Homo sapiens: one gene and its partner. The protein of the gene in region 2 interacts with the protein of the main gene of each other region in a biochemical or structural test. Each region holds a gene or a part of one and is shown on either strand. Other genes may lie near its edges.

Region 1 (7,327 bases), on a different chromosome or scaffold from region 2:
GAGGGAGGAAGAGGGAACAGAACACGGAAGGGAGCGAGAAGCAGACAAATGAAAAAGGACGCGGGACGTCAGAGTGAGAACTAGAAACAGAGGCAGAGAGGAAGCAGGAGTGACCGAGTGTGGGAGAGAAAAGGGAGGGAGGCCCTGGGGGAGGGTGGGGGCAGGTGGGGAGGGTGGGGGCAGGTAGGGAGGAGGGGAGGCCTGAGAGCGGCTCAGCTGCAGCTGGGGCTGTGGTGCGGGCTCCCCAGGGGCAGGTGGCCTGGCCTGAAGTCCAAGGTCGAGGCCCCCTTCCCTTCCCAGCACCCTCCCGCGCGTTTCTCGCCCCGCCTCCTCCTTCCTCCTCCCTCAGTTGCCCCACCCAGCTCCCGCTGAAACCAGCCCTTCCCTGTGTCTCTCCAGAGTGGAGGGATATCCTGTGGGGCGGGGAGCTGGACAGAGGGAGAGGCGCCCCCTCCCAGGCACACAAGTTGGGGATAAAGCCCTTCCTTTACTCTGGGGCCTCCCTTAGGTCCATCTGGGTGTGTGTTTAGTAGGGATGAGGGAGCGGTGAGGTAGAGACCCAGAGAGAGAGAGATGGGTAGAGAGATGGAGGGTGAGACACAGTGACAGAGATGCCGCAGAGAGACTCAGAGACAGACAGAGACAGGGGAGATGCAGAGACAAGGAGACAGAGGAGAGAGAGGAAGACAGAGACCAGAACACAGTCACACAGAGACACAAGCAGAACCAGATCCCAAGAGACCCAGGCAGCCTTGGAGAGGGGTGTCCAGCCCAGCTCTGCCCTGCCAGGCGACCTGCGCCAGAGCCTTCCTCTCTGCCTCAGCCCCCCAGTCTTGCCTGAGGTTATCCAAGGGGAATGCCACTGGCCTGTCAATCCTGTGGCAGCATAGATGCCCTCCTCCCAGACCCCAGGCCCCTACTCACTCGCTGATGCAATGAGCAGCTGTGAGCACCCACTGGCGGTGCACCAGGATGCCCCCACACTGGAAAGTGCTGAAATGGTACAGAGCCGCCTGCCAGGGCTGGGAATGCTGCTCACACTCCCAGCCTCCCACAATCCGGGACTGAATCGGGGGCGCAGCACCTGCAGAGGCGGTGCTGGGTCAGGAAGGGCAGGGTTGGCAGGAGAGGCCAGGGACAAGGCTAGGAGAGGGAGCTGGGCTGTGGGTCTGAAGGGACATTGCGGGTAGAGGACCAGGGCTGGAGGTTGGGGACATGGGCAAGGGGTGTTGGGAAGGGGTGGGACTCTGGACTGTTCCCTGGGCTTTTGGAGTGGTGGCTGGACCTGGTGGGGAGATTTTGTGCTCTGACAGTAGAGCAGCCTCCAGGGATCAGGGTAGGAGACAGGAGACAGTGTCTGGAGCAGACACTGCATCTGGGCGTCAGGTCATTTGGGGTCTGGGGCTGGGGGATGGGAGGTGGTGGGTTAGGGGAGTGGAAAGGGATTCTGGAAACCAGGGATCAAGGCGCCAAGGGTGGGACAGGATCAGAGGCTCACTGAGGAAGAATCTGGAGGGCTAAGGGGCTCCTAGGCTAGGGAAACAGGACCTGGGTTGGGCTTTTGAGGTTCAGGAAAGGATGCAGCTTTAGGGAACCAGGTCTGAGAGGTAAAGAAGAGCATCTGGACTGAAGAGTTTGGGGGTGACTTGGGGTCCCTACATTGGGGTTGGAAGGGGCCAGCTTGGCTGGGACAGTTAGATTTCAGGGCTTCCTGGTTAAAGGGTAAAAGAAAGGGCTATGGTTAAGGCTAGAGGTGGGCTTCCGAGAGGTTTTGGGGTCCTTCCTGTGAACCAGGAATGGCAATCTGAGGGGAGGTTGGGGCCCTGAGAACACAGTTGCGGTCAGGACTGGGACGGGGCTCAGGAGGAGGGAGGCGTGAGTGGCAGTCCTTCTCGGACAGGGTGAAGGATGGGATCTTCGTTTCTCATGGGGATGGGGTTCATGGTCTGAGGGTACTGGAAGGATATGGGGTCCTCTTGGAGGCAATCCTAGGAAGAGGATTGGAGAAGTGGTGAGAACAGGCGCCAAGCAGCTGTGGGAATGCAATGCAGGACCCACTTGACGTGAGGTTGTAGAATCACATACTGACTTGGGGGAGGCCAGGGCAGAAGCGCTGGCTGAGAAGGCATTCAGGATCCTTGGGGTGGGGTTCCAGAAAACCAGAGCTGTGTAGGAACAATTCAGGCAGAGAAGGGCTGGGGCCTGGGGCGGGATGGAACTTCCCCAAGGAAAGGAGCATGTGGTGGGAGGGTGTGGTGTTTTTCCTGGGAGAGCTGGGGGTGCTGGGTGGGAAGGGACATTTGCAGACCCCCCCCCATACCAGATGGGGGATCCCACATGCCAGTTTGGGAAGCAGGGTTTTCTGGTGAAATTTGGGGGACCCTGGAAGGACTGGGGAGACCAGATGTCAGGGTCTGGAGGACACAGTTGAGAGCGGACAGCTGGATGGAAAAAGTCACTGGAGTGTGGTGGGATTTGTAGACTCAGGAGCCAAATAGGTGGCCGCAGGGAACTAGGGGGCAGGAGGGGATGATCAGAGTCCTGTGGGGTGGGGGAAGCCCATGGGAGGGTTGGGGTCCTCCAGAGAGAGACAGAGATGGCCCAGAATCTGCCCCTTTGGTAAAGCGGTGGGACAGGGCGTTGGCTAGGGAAGAGGAGAAAGTACTGAGGCTTCCTGGGAGGAGCAGGAATCTGGTGTGGGAGTGAGCACTATGACAACATGGAGGAGCGGGGGTGGAAGTTTAGGGTGGGGCCGCGCAAGATAGATAAGAGCCGGGGCACCCCGGACTAGGATAGACTGTGGGCCAGAGGGATGAGGGTGGGGTGTTGGAGGGGAAGGTCTTATCGGGGGGGGATGTGAGGCCAGCAAGAGAATCAGGGCCCGTTCCCCCTCCCACATCCCCCCACTGTCTCACCAGTCCCCCCCAGGGACAGGGCGAGGCACAGAACCAGGAACCACATGGTGACAGAGGTGTCCAGGGGCCAGCAGGTGGAGGAACTGGGGAACCTCCCTGGGGAGGCTTTTAAAAGCCCTTATCCCCTCAGAGCCCCACCCCTGCCCTGCTGGCACCCAGATGTTGGCCAAGGCCCTTCCCCTGTTGCCTGGGGGCTGGACAATTGCCCCCCCCCCCTCCGATCCCCAGAGCTGTAGACGGGGAGGGAGAACCAGCACCTGTTCTGCAGGCCCTGGATCACGCTGGACGCATTCCTGGGGTTGAAGCCAGGTGGGGCAGGGCCTGTGGCTCTGGGGCTTTGCTCTGGGGAGCAGCCAGTGAGGCAAGGGGGGACTGAGGGGAAGCAGAAACAGGAAGACGGAGGAATCAGTGACCCCTGGTACAAAGCCCCATATACCTCAGTCTCAATTAAGGCCCTGCACCCCCAGACCTGGTGCCCTCAAACACCAGCAGTTAGGGCTCTGATTCCCTGCACCACTCGGAGCCAAGATACTAGCATCTCAGCTGCCAGTTCCCCCTGAAATATAAGCCTTGGCCTTCAGAATGCCCTGGTTCTTGCACTCCCAGACCCAGGACCTAGGTCCCCAAAGCTACTGTTCCTTTCATAATAAAATTTTGGGGTACACATCACCACATTCCTAGTGCCTCCAGATCCAGGAATGTGAAGTTTCAGGGGTCTCCCAGGGTAAGTTCTTTAGCATTACAAAATCCAGTGTCCCTCCCAAACAATGCTGGGGTCTCAATGAGCCTCCCACTTCTTGCTCCCAGTTATGGGTGCTCAACGTCCTGTCCTCCAAAGTCCCAGAGATCTGGACAACCTTCCCTCCCAGGTCAAGATCAGGCTAACCACAGATTCCAATGACCCTTCCCCCCCACCACCAGTACAATATTTAGGTCTCACGAGCCAGGTTCATGTACTTCAACATTCAGCGACCTTGAACATCACATTTTGTGGTCTCTGAAGATAATTAGGAACTAGATTCCTGCAGCCTCAATGGTAAACCCATAGGCTTCCAACAGGTTGTCTTGGCTTTTTGGTAAAATCAAAGCAGCTCAGAGTTCCAGCCTCTGCTGTATATCAGGGACCTGGCTAAGGAAAGGACAGTATTTGCCTTTTTGCCATGGCTACCAGGAAGCCCAGAACTAAATCTTTTTTTTTTTTTTTTTTTTTCTGAGATGGAGTCTTGCTCTGTCACCAGGCTGGAGTGCAGTGGCGCGATCTCGGCTCACTGCAACTCCTGCCTCCTAAGTTCAAGCGATCCTCCCACATCACCCTCCCAAGTAGCTAGGATTACAGTCGTGTGCCACCACGCCCGGCTAAATTTTTTTAGTATTTTTAGTAGAGATGGGGTTTCACCATGTTGGCCAGGCTGGTCTTGCACTCCTGACCTCAAGTGAGCCGCCCGCCTTGGCCTCCCAAAGTGCTGGGATTACAGGTGTGAGCCACCATGCCCGGCCCAGAACTAAACCTTAAAGAAAAAGCCATTCTTGGTAATCTAGTGTCTGTTAGGTCCTTTAACTGGGATCCAGAGATAGAGGGTATTTACTCAGTGCCAGACACGATTTTAATCAGTTCAGACGAATCATCTCATTTAATCCTCACAACAGCCCTTTGAAGTCAGCAATAAGATGGTCTCATTTTACAGATAAGGAAACCAAGGCGAAGTGAGATTGGGCCTCTTGTTCAAGATCACACGGGTGGTCATGTGTGTTGAATGAATGGAGCCCTGCTTCAAGCCGCTTCTCCTCACCTAGGGATCGGGGTGGTGGGTGAAAAGGAACAGTGTACAGTGTCTCGGGGTTTCTCTTTGACCCCAGAAAAAAGTCACAGAAATTCCTACAGAGCAACTTGGATCAGCGCTTTGTTATCTTGGCATTAAACAGGTGACCTTGAGCGCCAGCTTTGTCCTCAGGTGGGACAAGTCCTTGGCTAACATCTGGGCCTTGGACAGGGTCTTGGGGGATGGCTCCGTTCTGTTCCATGTCAGGCGGGGCTGCTGGCCAGCTGTGGGGGCTTCTGCTCAGTCAGGGGCACAGGAGATAGGCTAGAATAGTCAGTTCCTCTTCATGGTTTCCCTGATCCACTCCAAGTAGTGGCAGACTTTGGTATAGACACCAGGCTTGGTGGTGTTGTCACAAGGGACGTCACCCCAGGACACAATGCCCTGCAGGATGCCCCCACAGACCAGGGGTCCCCCAGAGTCACCCTGTGGGGAAAAGAGGGGGTCTCAGGTTGAGTGAAACCTCCTGGATTCATCCTCATCCTAATCACCATTTGCAATCTCACCCCAAACCCAATCCATCCCCATCCCAGGGAACCCCAACCCAACTCAACTCAATACAGCCCAGTTTATCCCAAACAGAGCCAACCCAACCCCAACCCCAACCCCAATTCAACACAGCTCAATACAACTCACCCAACCTATATCCAATCTCACCCCCATGCAACTCCAGTGCAACTGTACTAAGTTAAATCCAACTCAGCCCACATCCTCACCATTCAAAATCAAATCAAACCCATGCCCATCTCAAAATCCAATCTCAATCTTCATGTCTTCTGCATTCCAAACAAAATCTACCTCATCCCAATTCAACCCTGACGTATTTCCCACCCAGAATCAAACCAAACCATTCCCATTCTCAACCCCAACCCATGCCATCTCAAACTAACTATCACATTATCCACCTCAAACAACGCAATCCCCACCTATAACCCCAACTCCAACCTCACCCCTATTCTAACTTCTCTTCCTACTCCATCTCCAAGCCTAACCCTAGCATCTTCTCTGGCCCAAAGCAAAGAAAATCCAACCCCATCCGGACTCCCACACCTGTCCCCATCCCTCTTCTTCCGCCTGATGGCCCCTCTAGGCTCTGACCTCACAGGATTCTGCGCCTCTGCCCTCCGCGCCTGCACACACCATGGTGTTTGTCAGGCGCCCTGGGTAGCTCTTGTCACAAGATGTGTCCGAGATAATGCTGATGTTGGCACAATGCAACGTATCTGGGAGACTCACTGGGGAAGACAGTGGACTTGGAGCAGATCCATAAATTCCGGCCCTTGTCCCCTCCGCCCAAGAGCCCTGGAGCATAGGATTCCTTGAGGCCTCGCATCCAGCTCCATCCTTTCACGCACCTTGTGACCGGGGGCTCCCAGCGGTCCCAGGCTCGTTGTGGGACACCAGGCCCCAGCCAGACACCACACAGGCCTCCCCCGGGTGGGGGCAACGCGTGGGTAGCACCGCGGGGCGCACCTGGGGGTTCAGGCGTGCGGGCTGGACTAGGCGCAGCAACATGATGTCGTTGCGGTGGCTGCGCGCTTCGTAGCGCGGGTGTGGAATGACCCGAGACGTGGTCCGTAGTTGCTCTGGGCCATCGCGCTTGCGCAGGTTGTGCTCTCCCAGGCGCACTCTCATGAAGCTGTGCGGGCGAGTGGTTTTCCCGCCAGTGGAGTGCGGGCCAGTGGTTACCCGCAAGTAGAGGACAGAAAGATCAAAGAGTGGGCAACCCGAGGTCTCCCGACCCTTTAGAAATCTCGACATCCCATTACCTTTTCCCAAGACCCTGAAGCCAATGGTTCCAGCCCCTGCTCCTCAAGGACCAACGAGTCTGAAGTCAGGCACACTCCTAGAACTCGATCCCCTCCAACTACTCCCAGCCCCCTCCTGGTCTGTCCCCGAATCCAGGATTCTCACATCCCTAGAACTGAGGCTCAAAAGCTGGAACTAGTCTTCTCCTTCCTCCTTCAGAGATCGAAGGCTTTGAAACACACACTCCTTCCTAACCCAGGGGCTTGACATCCGGCCTCCTCGTCTTTCAGAACCCAGGAGTTCTGGCGTCTGCCTCCGTCTTCCCCCAAATCTAGGAGCTCTTCCCCCCGAACCAGGCTCCCTCAGGACCCTGAGCCCCTGCCTTCATACCGGCTTTGGCAGTGGGCCGCAGACAGCACCCAGTGTGGGGAGATGAGGGAAGCGCCACAGTTAAAGCGTCCACGCTCGTAGAGAGCCACTTGCCATGGCTGGGAGTGGGGTGCACACTCGTCACCTTCCAGCAACTTGTCACCATCCTGGGCTGCTAAGAGAAGGGGTAGAGGATGCCTGAGGACAGGGACGTTTACATTGCCTCCTACACCTTCCTTGCACCCTGCCCTAACTACTATATGCCTATGCCTTTCCCCTAACTTCTCAAGACACCCTGCCCTGTTTTTGTTTGTTGTTGTTGTTGTTTTTGAGACGGAGTCTCACTCTTTTGCCCAGGCTGGAGTGCAGTGGCATGATCTCAGCTCACTGCAACTTCCGCCTCCTGGGTTCAAGTGATCCTCCTGCCTCAGCCTCCCGAGTAGCTGAGGTGCCCGCCACCACACCTGGCTAATT
Region 2 (6,969 bases):
GGAAGCAGACGTAGGGCTGGAGGCTCTGAGCACTTTCCCCCTACAGCAGTCTCCCCGCTCCCTCCCACAAGAGGCAGGCACCCTATAGGGAGGCTGGCATATCTGGAAGGAGGTTTTGGACAACTGGTGGACGGGACTCCTGGGTGTGTGGACACACTCCTAGCAGCCATCCTTTGGGGGCTGAGAAAGAATGGCCCAGGCCATTTCTCAGGGAGGAAAACGACTTTTTCAGAGCCTCCTTGTGGGGTGTGTAGGGATGTGCCTGGTCAACTTCATGTGGTAGTGTGTGGCAGTGGGCAGGAGGGGGAGCAGCCAGGATGTCAGGACTACGCGTCCCTCCTGCCTGACCTTCCTGGTTATAATTTAACTCTAGCCCGGGATGGGGCTGGTGAGTGGGCAGTGGCACTCCTCCCCCTGGGTAGGCAGTGCTTCATCTCTCCAGATGGCCAGCTGGGGCTCCTGGCCAGGTCAGGGAGCAGGGAACCTGCTCTCTGCTCCCCTAACTCATGCAGCAACAGGTTCTGGGTCTAGAGAAGGCAAGTGACAGTCTTGGGCTCTCAGCAGATGCCACGGGCCTGGACCTGGCAACTGCTGACCCTGGCACCCATGTCGAAGGCTGACACAGCCCGTGGGGCTTGCACTGCAAGCTGGGCAGCATAGGCCCGGGCTCTGGGTTAGGAAAAGTAGAGGCTGCGGTGGAGTGGGGGATGCTTGGCGCCTGAGGGAGGAGACTAGCCCCCACTGCAGTTTTCCAGAGGCCACAGTGTGGGACCCCACATGAGACACTCCCTCTCTGCCCCACCATCGCCCTGTTTCTGGGAAGAGTCTTGCCCTTGTCCTAAATCACAGCTTTTCCTGGCAGCAAGGGACAGGCGGCATCCTGGTGCATTTAGTAAACATTGGAAACTGAGTTGGGAAGGGTAGGGGAGGGTGGCAGAGGACAAAGTGAGGACCATCCTTGGCTCATAGAATTCAGAGAAACCTCAGGCATCTCTCACGCAGCCTGAGCAAAAATGTCCTCTGCAGGATCCCAGCTGGGGCAGACCTAGGAGAATCCTCCTCAAGCCACTCTCCACTGTGAGGAAGCCAAGGGTCTAGAAGGTTTTCTGTACTTTGAGCTGGAATGTGCATTTTGGTGACTCCCTCTTGCCTGGTCTGGCCTCAGGAGGCCTCAAGTCTGTGCTCCTCAAAGGCAAAGTCACAAAGATTCTGTGGTTCTCTGCCTAACACCTGGACAGCACTTAGGGATGATGAATGGCTGGATGGAGGGAAGGACGGGGGCATCTTTGAGAATAAGTCCTTTGGCAAGCCCCTGTTCCTGTGTGGCCCCAGGTGCAGGGTGTACTCCTGAAGATGTACACCCTGGCATGCCTTACTTCAAGAAGAGGGTTTGCTGGCACAGAGCGATGGAGTCATAGCACTGGGGGGTGTGGAGAGGGGAGGAGGGTGGGAAGGCACCTACATGGAGAAGTTGGTGATGAAGGCTTTCTTGGGCAGCTCCATCTGGAAGGTGGCCTCCTGCACAGTATTGGCCCTATTGACCACTCGGCTGGTGACGACCGTGTGGGCAAATCGGGATGAGACCCTGGAGTCCACGGTGAGGCTGTAGATGTCGATGCCATTCTGGACCAGCAAAGAAGAAGGGGGTTGCAGGGTTTCAATGCCACCTCAGCTCGGGGTGACGCTCTTCAAGAGTTGGCCCTGACTCTGGCTCTAGACCAAACCCTGGCTCCCAATCTGACTGAGCCACTGACCAGGCCTCAGGCTGAACCCAGTGAGGCATCTCATATGTGAACATTTGTCTCAGGTAAGAGATAGCAGTGTGCTTCATTCCCCACCCTACAGCACCACAGGGCAGGGGCCACGTCCTTCTTGATCTATAGGGGCCCAGAGCACCCCTTGGAGAAGAACAAGCATGCAGGGGGTGGAGCTGGTGAAGCCAGGGCCAGTGTCTGGGAGGGGCATCACACTCAGCCTTTGGGCAGGGGTGAGAGACCTGGTGGGGTCAGGGAGCTTTGCATGCTGGCTTAGCTTTGCCCAGAAAAAGGGCAGTGACCAGGTCCTTTGATTTCTGGAGACTTTGGCCTCTGTGGCAACAGGGAAGCTCCCACCAGTCTCCTAGAAGGAAGCCCTCAGAGCTGGGAGAATTCGGAGGTAGACTAGAGTCTGGTCTCTGAGAGTTGGGAATCTTCCTCTCTGCTCCGCAGTGGACCCTCCCCAACTCATCCCCACTTCCGCAGGGCACTCCCCTAGCAGGTGCCATTTGCCTTGAGGTCTGTGTCCCCCGAGGAGGGGCACACGGGCACCTCTTACCTGCTTGTGTGTGACATGCTCATGCGCACTGCACCAACTCTGCTCGGCTGCATGCGGCTGCCTGAATGCAGTTTGGCACAGAGGTGCCAAGTGGCTTGTTTATGTGCTTGGGTATTTGCTCTGCGACAAGCACTGTCCTAAGCACTTCATAGATACAATGGGTTTGGTTTTCACAACAAGCACTGTCCTAAGCACTTTATAGATACAATGGGTTTGGTTTTCACAACCGCCACCCTCTGAATAGGTTCTAGTATTACCCTGTTTTACAGATGAGGAAATTGAGACATAGTCAGCATAAATCATTCTCCTGAGGTCACTTACTAAAAGGCGGTAGAGCCAGGCTTGTAAAACTGTATTTCCTCATTTGGAAAATGGAAATGATTGGATCATCCCCTCTATTAGGTGGGAGAATACCAGTAAGGCCCTTGGGGTAGTGCCTGGCGGGAGGTCTGCACCATTTTTTTGCACACACAGGGATGCACACGCACTTGTGCTGACACGCTGGCACATGCGGAGGCTCTTCCCCACTTCCCAGGCGTTCTCTCATCCCCCAGCTCACGCCACACCCATGGACACTGGCTACCTTTTCGGCAGTAGTAGTCTGGTGGATGGCCAGCAGTGAAAGCAGGACGAGAACTTTGCTGCAGGTACGGACAGGCCTTGGGGGCTTCATCGTGGCTCCAGTGTCTGCCAGGAGGCTTCTGAACTCGACAGCAAGTGGGGAATGGATTAGTAACTTGTTTGCTGCCCCACCCACATGGGGGCAGGTTCTGGGAAATTGGGATCTACAAGCCAAAAACCACAGTGACCTCAGATAAGCAAATGACGAACGTCCCATGGACCTTGGCTGGGGGCAGGAATGTATACCAAAGAAAGGTAGGCTCAGTTTGGAGTGGGGGTACATGCCCCTTCTGAAAAGTGCGAAACCTTCACCAGGACCCTTCACACCAGGCATTCCACCAAGCTCCACAGGGCTGGGAGGGAATTGACAGTGAAGATGTCAGTCTGCTCTCCCTAAGTCCAGCCCGGGGAGAAACAGCGGGGGATGGTGGGGAAGACTAGGGCTACAGGGCTACCCTAGCGGCTTCCCGGAAGAAGGGGGCTTGGCCACCAGGTAAGTGTGTCTGGCTGATGGGAGGGCCCAAAGGCATGGAGTGACTCTGGGAGGTGTCTGTGTGGGGCAGATCTAGAGTCAGGATAGATACGCCGTATTTCTGAAGTGAGAGGTGCTGGGCACGGGGCGCCTCCTTCTCTCTCCTGGGGTCCCAGGTTGCTGTTTGGGTGCCATTAATCTAGCCAGGGCTTTAGGTTCAACCCCAGCAAGGCCCCCAAAACAAGAATGGCAATACAACTGAGTCATAAACCTGCCACATCCTGTGGCACAGAGGTCTCCATGCGGGGAGTTTATTGACAGAAGAGCATGGAACAGAAGACAGACCTGACAGTGCCAGCAGCTCCTGAGGGGTGACTGGGGAGTCATTTGGTGGAGCAGAGGGAGCCCAGGAATCGCTGGTTGAGAGAGGGCAGAATGCTGTTGTCATGAGCAGTGTGATGCTGCCACAGCCCAGACCCAGGGGAGCGCTGCCCAAAGGCCTGGGGTGGGTCCCGGCCTTGCTAAAGTTGAAGCGCTCTGCTCCTTGTAAAGTGGGATCGAGTGAGTACATATTATGCGCTCTGGGCACCGCTGGGGCTCGTGTTCCCTGGTGGCTCTGGGGAAGCCAGCTCCTGAGTCTGTGGCCACAGATGGGTAAAGATGAGTCATAAAAGTGTGGCCAGATGCCAAGTCCTGGATCAGGGAAGGACGGCGGCTCCGTGACACCAGCCCTGAGGGGGCCAGCTGCCTTGGGAACCTATCGGGGGCCTTGGGGCAGCCAGTGGCTTCCAGAGGCTGGGGAGGGTTTCTCCACCAGTCCTGTCTCCATTAGAGGTGGCGGCAGGCCTGGGGCAAAGGTGCCATAGACTGGAGCTATTTCTACAGCTGCAAGGAAGACGTTCCCCTTCCTTAGCATGACTGGCCAGAAGCCTCATCTCTGCGCACGTCTCCACTGCTCACCCTTTTGGCTCTGGATACGATTGGGATTACACAGGGGAACACGCTCCTTTCAGTGTCTGGGGGAAGAGTCTCCCCATGGAGTCCAGCAAGTAGGACTGGGCCCTTCCTCACAGCAGGGCTGCTCCCTTGGGGCAGAGAGCACAGGCCCAGCCCGGACTCAGGGCTATATAAGGTGGCCAGGCTGGCCGGGACTGTGGGAAACGTTCTGGGCAGCCAGAACCTCCTGGGACAGGAAGGCATCCCCAGCAGGCATCAGCCCCGAGCCAGGCACCACAAGCCCAGGCTCTGCCAGTCCAGCTCCGAAAAGAGCCACTGTCAGCCTGTCCATGGTCATGGTCTTGCCATCACAACGGGACAGGCCTCTATGGGTCTTTTGAACCTGGCACTTCCAGGCACACAGGGGACAGAGGACTGGAGAGAGAAGGGTCATGCAGGCTGAGAATCTGGTGTTCCATGCCCCAGACAGCATGGTTGGAGCAGAATGTGGGAGTCTTACCCCTGCTGTTTGGAAGAGACGGTAGCTCAGGAAACTGACTGCCAGAGAGGAATCTCAATCTGGCTCTGACTTGGAGGGGACAAAAGCCGGGAGGAGGCAGTGTGAACAAAAGTGTAGGGAGGGAGAGGGGTTTTGAGGTCCCTAGTGCAGTGCAGGGAGAGGGGTTTTGAGGTCCCTAGTGCAGTGCAGGGAGAGGGGTTTTGAGGTCCCTAGTGCAGTGCAGGGAGAGGGGTTTTTGAGGTCCCTAGGTGCTGCAGAGCCTGCAGGTCCTCAGAGGCTTCTCAGCAGCTTCTGTGGAAGGCAGGAGGAGAGGTGGTCCCTGAGACCCCACCCACTTCACTCTGAGCAGTGTCATCATGGCCTGCTTTATGGAATAGACTCCAGCTCAACTCCCCTGTAGTATAAAAGGGGAAACTGAGGCTCAGAAAAGTCTGAAGTCACAGGTCAGCACTGAGTCTCCATGTCCAAGGCAGCATGTGGCAGTGCCCATAATAGCACCTGTGCTATCCCCTGGGATCCTCTTAAACGGACATGTTCCATGTTCCCACCCTGTCCTCCCTCTCAATAGTGGCCATAGCCAGGGACCAACCAACACCTTCTGATTGCTGGGGCCACGTGGGCATCCTCTTTATTGGTGCTTCCAAGGTGCTGGTGCAGAGCCCTTGGCTGAAGGGCCTGGACTGTGGGGGAGGGTGGCAGCCCCAGAGACAGCAGGGGAGAGGAAGCGTTCTGGCATAAAAAAGAGTTCCTGGGAAAGGCTCCTGTTTCCGAGCATTCGGGCAGCAAGGGGAGTGGCGCACACTTCTCAGCCGAAGACACTCTTGGTGGGTCCGGCTTTGGGCTTCTCAAAGACAGTCTCGGTACCTGTGCGGGTGCGGCTGAACACCGACGGGGCGGCCGAGCCAGCTTGCTCTGTGGGAGGAGGTAAAGTCAGGGGCCAGCCTAGCTTCCTGGGAGGGAAGATCCCTTACGATGGGAGCACCTTTCTTGAACCCAGGAATACTGGATTCTCAGAAAAGGATCCTTGACCACCTCCCCCCACCACTGACACACACCTGCACCCCCATCCCCAGCCCCAGATGGCATGAGGACACTCACCACACTCTCGCATGACCTGGTAGGTCTTGGACTTGATTTCCTGGTTCTTGGTCAGGTTTCCTCGGGCCCCCTTCAGGTCCTCGTCCTTCACAGGGGGGCGCTTCTTCTTGATAGGGGCTTCCTGAGCACCAGCCTTGGAGATCCAAGAGCCTCATCTTACTACCTGAAGCCTCGGTAGAAAGGCACACCTACCTCTGTGCCTTGGCCAAGACCCCTCTTCTCTGCTCATTAAACCCAAGCCTATTCAAGGCTCTACTCCTCTTCCAGAGAAAGCCTTCCCAACTATACTCCACCTGCTGCAGGTCTCCCAGCTGTCTTGGTCTGACTTGCCCATGTGCCTTTCCCCTATAGCCTGGGAGCTCTTGGGAGCAGTGGCTGCTGCAGCCTCACACTGGCGTGTCTGGCTACCTGGTCAAGCTCAGGACTGGGCACAGTGGGGAACAGCGAAGGGGACTAGCTCTGAGGTTGGGCAATACTAGGGAATTTGGTTAGTTCCAAAACCTGTTCACTGGGTGGCAAGCGGTTCCTCAAGGATTGCCCCCTTCCAGAAAAGCGCCACTATTTACTTTGTGTCTTTGGGGCTGGAAATGGGGTAGAAGGGCCAGATGCCCACAGAATTACAGTCCAAAATGGCCACCCACCCACAGAGCAGGCAGCAAGGACAGTCCTCTCTCTTGGCAGGCTGGTCTGTCCCTCCAGGGTGGGGGACACCCAGGCTCGGTGTTTACCCTACCCCTCAACCCCAGGCGCCTGTGAGTCTGAGACCTGCCTGTGCTTGGGTGCAGGTGCAGGTATTTCCTCGCTCAGCCTGGGCCAGGCTCCTCAGAGCAACACACTATACCCCTGTACAGCGATGCATCCAGCTGTGTCCCTCCAGCCTCATGTGCACACACATACAGCTTCATGCATATACCATACACAGAGACAGACAGACCTATGTGTGTGGCCACACACAGAGTGCATGGCTGCCGGGCCCATAGCTACAAATGCACAAAGCTCTACACACTGA

What was found. Proteins that work in one complex are often made in the same cells at the same time.
Region 1: the proteins of ITIH4 (region 2) and KLK1 form a complex in vitro, tested with the Homo sapiens proteins (one study listed by BioGRID).

Annotation. Positions count from the first base shown.
Region 1 is NC_000019.10:50,820,788-50,828,114, forward strand, and holds the start of KLK1 (kallikrein-1 preproprotein), read right to left. Parts: upstream 3,001-7,327; 5' UTR 2,962-3,000; coding exon 2,916-2,961; intron 1,085-2,915; coding exon 925-1,084; intron 1-924. Other genes in the region: KLK15 (kallikrein-15 isoform 4 preproprotein), read right to left, coding at 5,009-5,161, 5,834-5,970, 6,091-6,374, 6,875-7,028.
Region 2 is NC_000003.12:52,827,657-52,834,625, forward strand, and holds the start of ITIH4 (inter-alpha-trypsin inhibitor heavy chain H4 isoform 1 precursor), read right to left. Parts: upstream 3,017-6,969; 5' UTR 2,987-3,016; coding exon 2,897-2,986; intron 1,624-2,896; coding exon 1,463-1,623; intron 1-1,462. Other genes in the region: STIMATE-MUSTN1 (TMEM110-MUSTN1 fusion protein), read right to left, coding at 5,668-5,774, 5,961-6,093; MUSTN1 (musculoskeletal embryonic nuclear protein 1), read right to left, coding at 5,668-5,774, 5,961-6,093. UniProt on the Homo sapiens protein: Type II acute-phase protein (APP) involved in inflammatory responses to trauma. May also play a role in liver development or regeneration.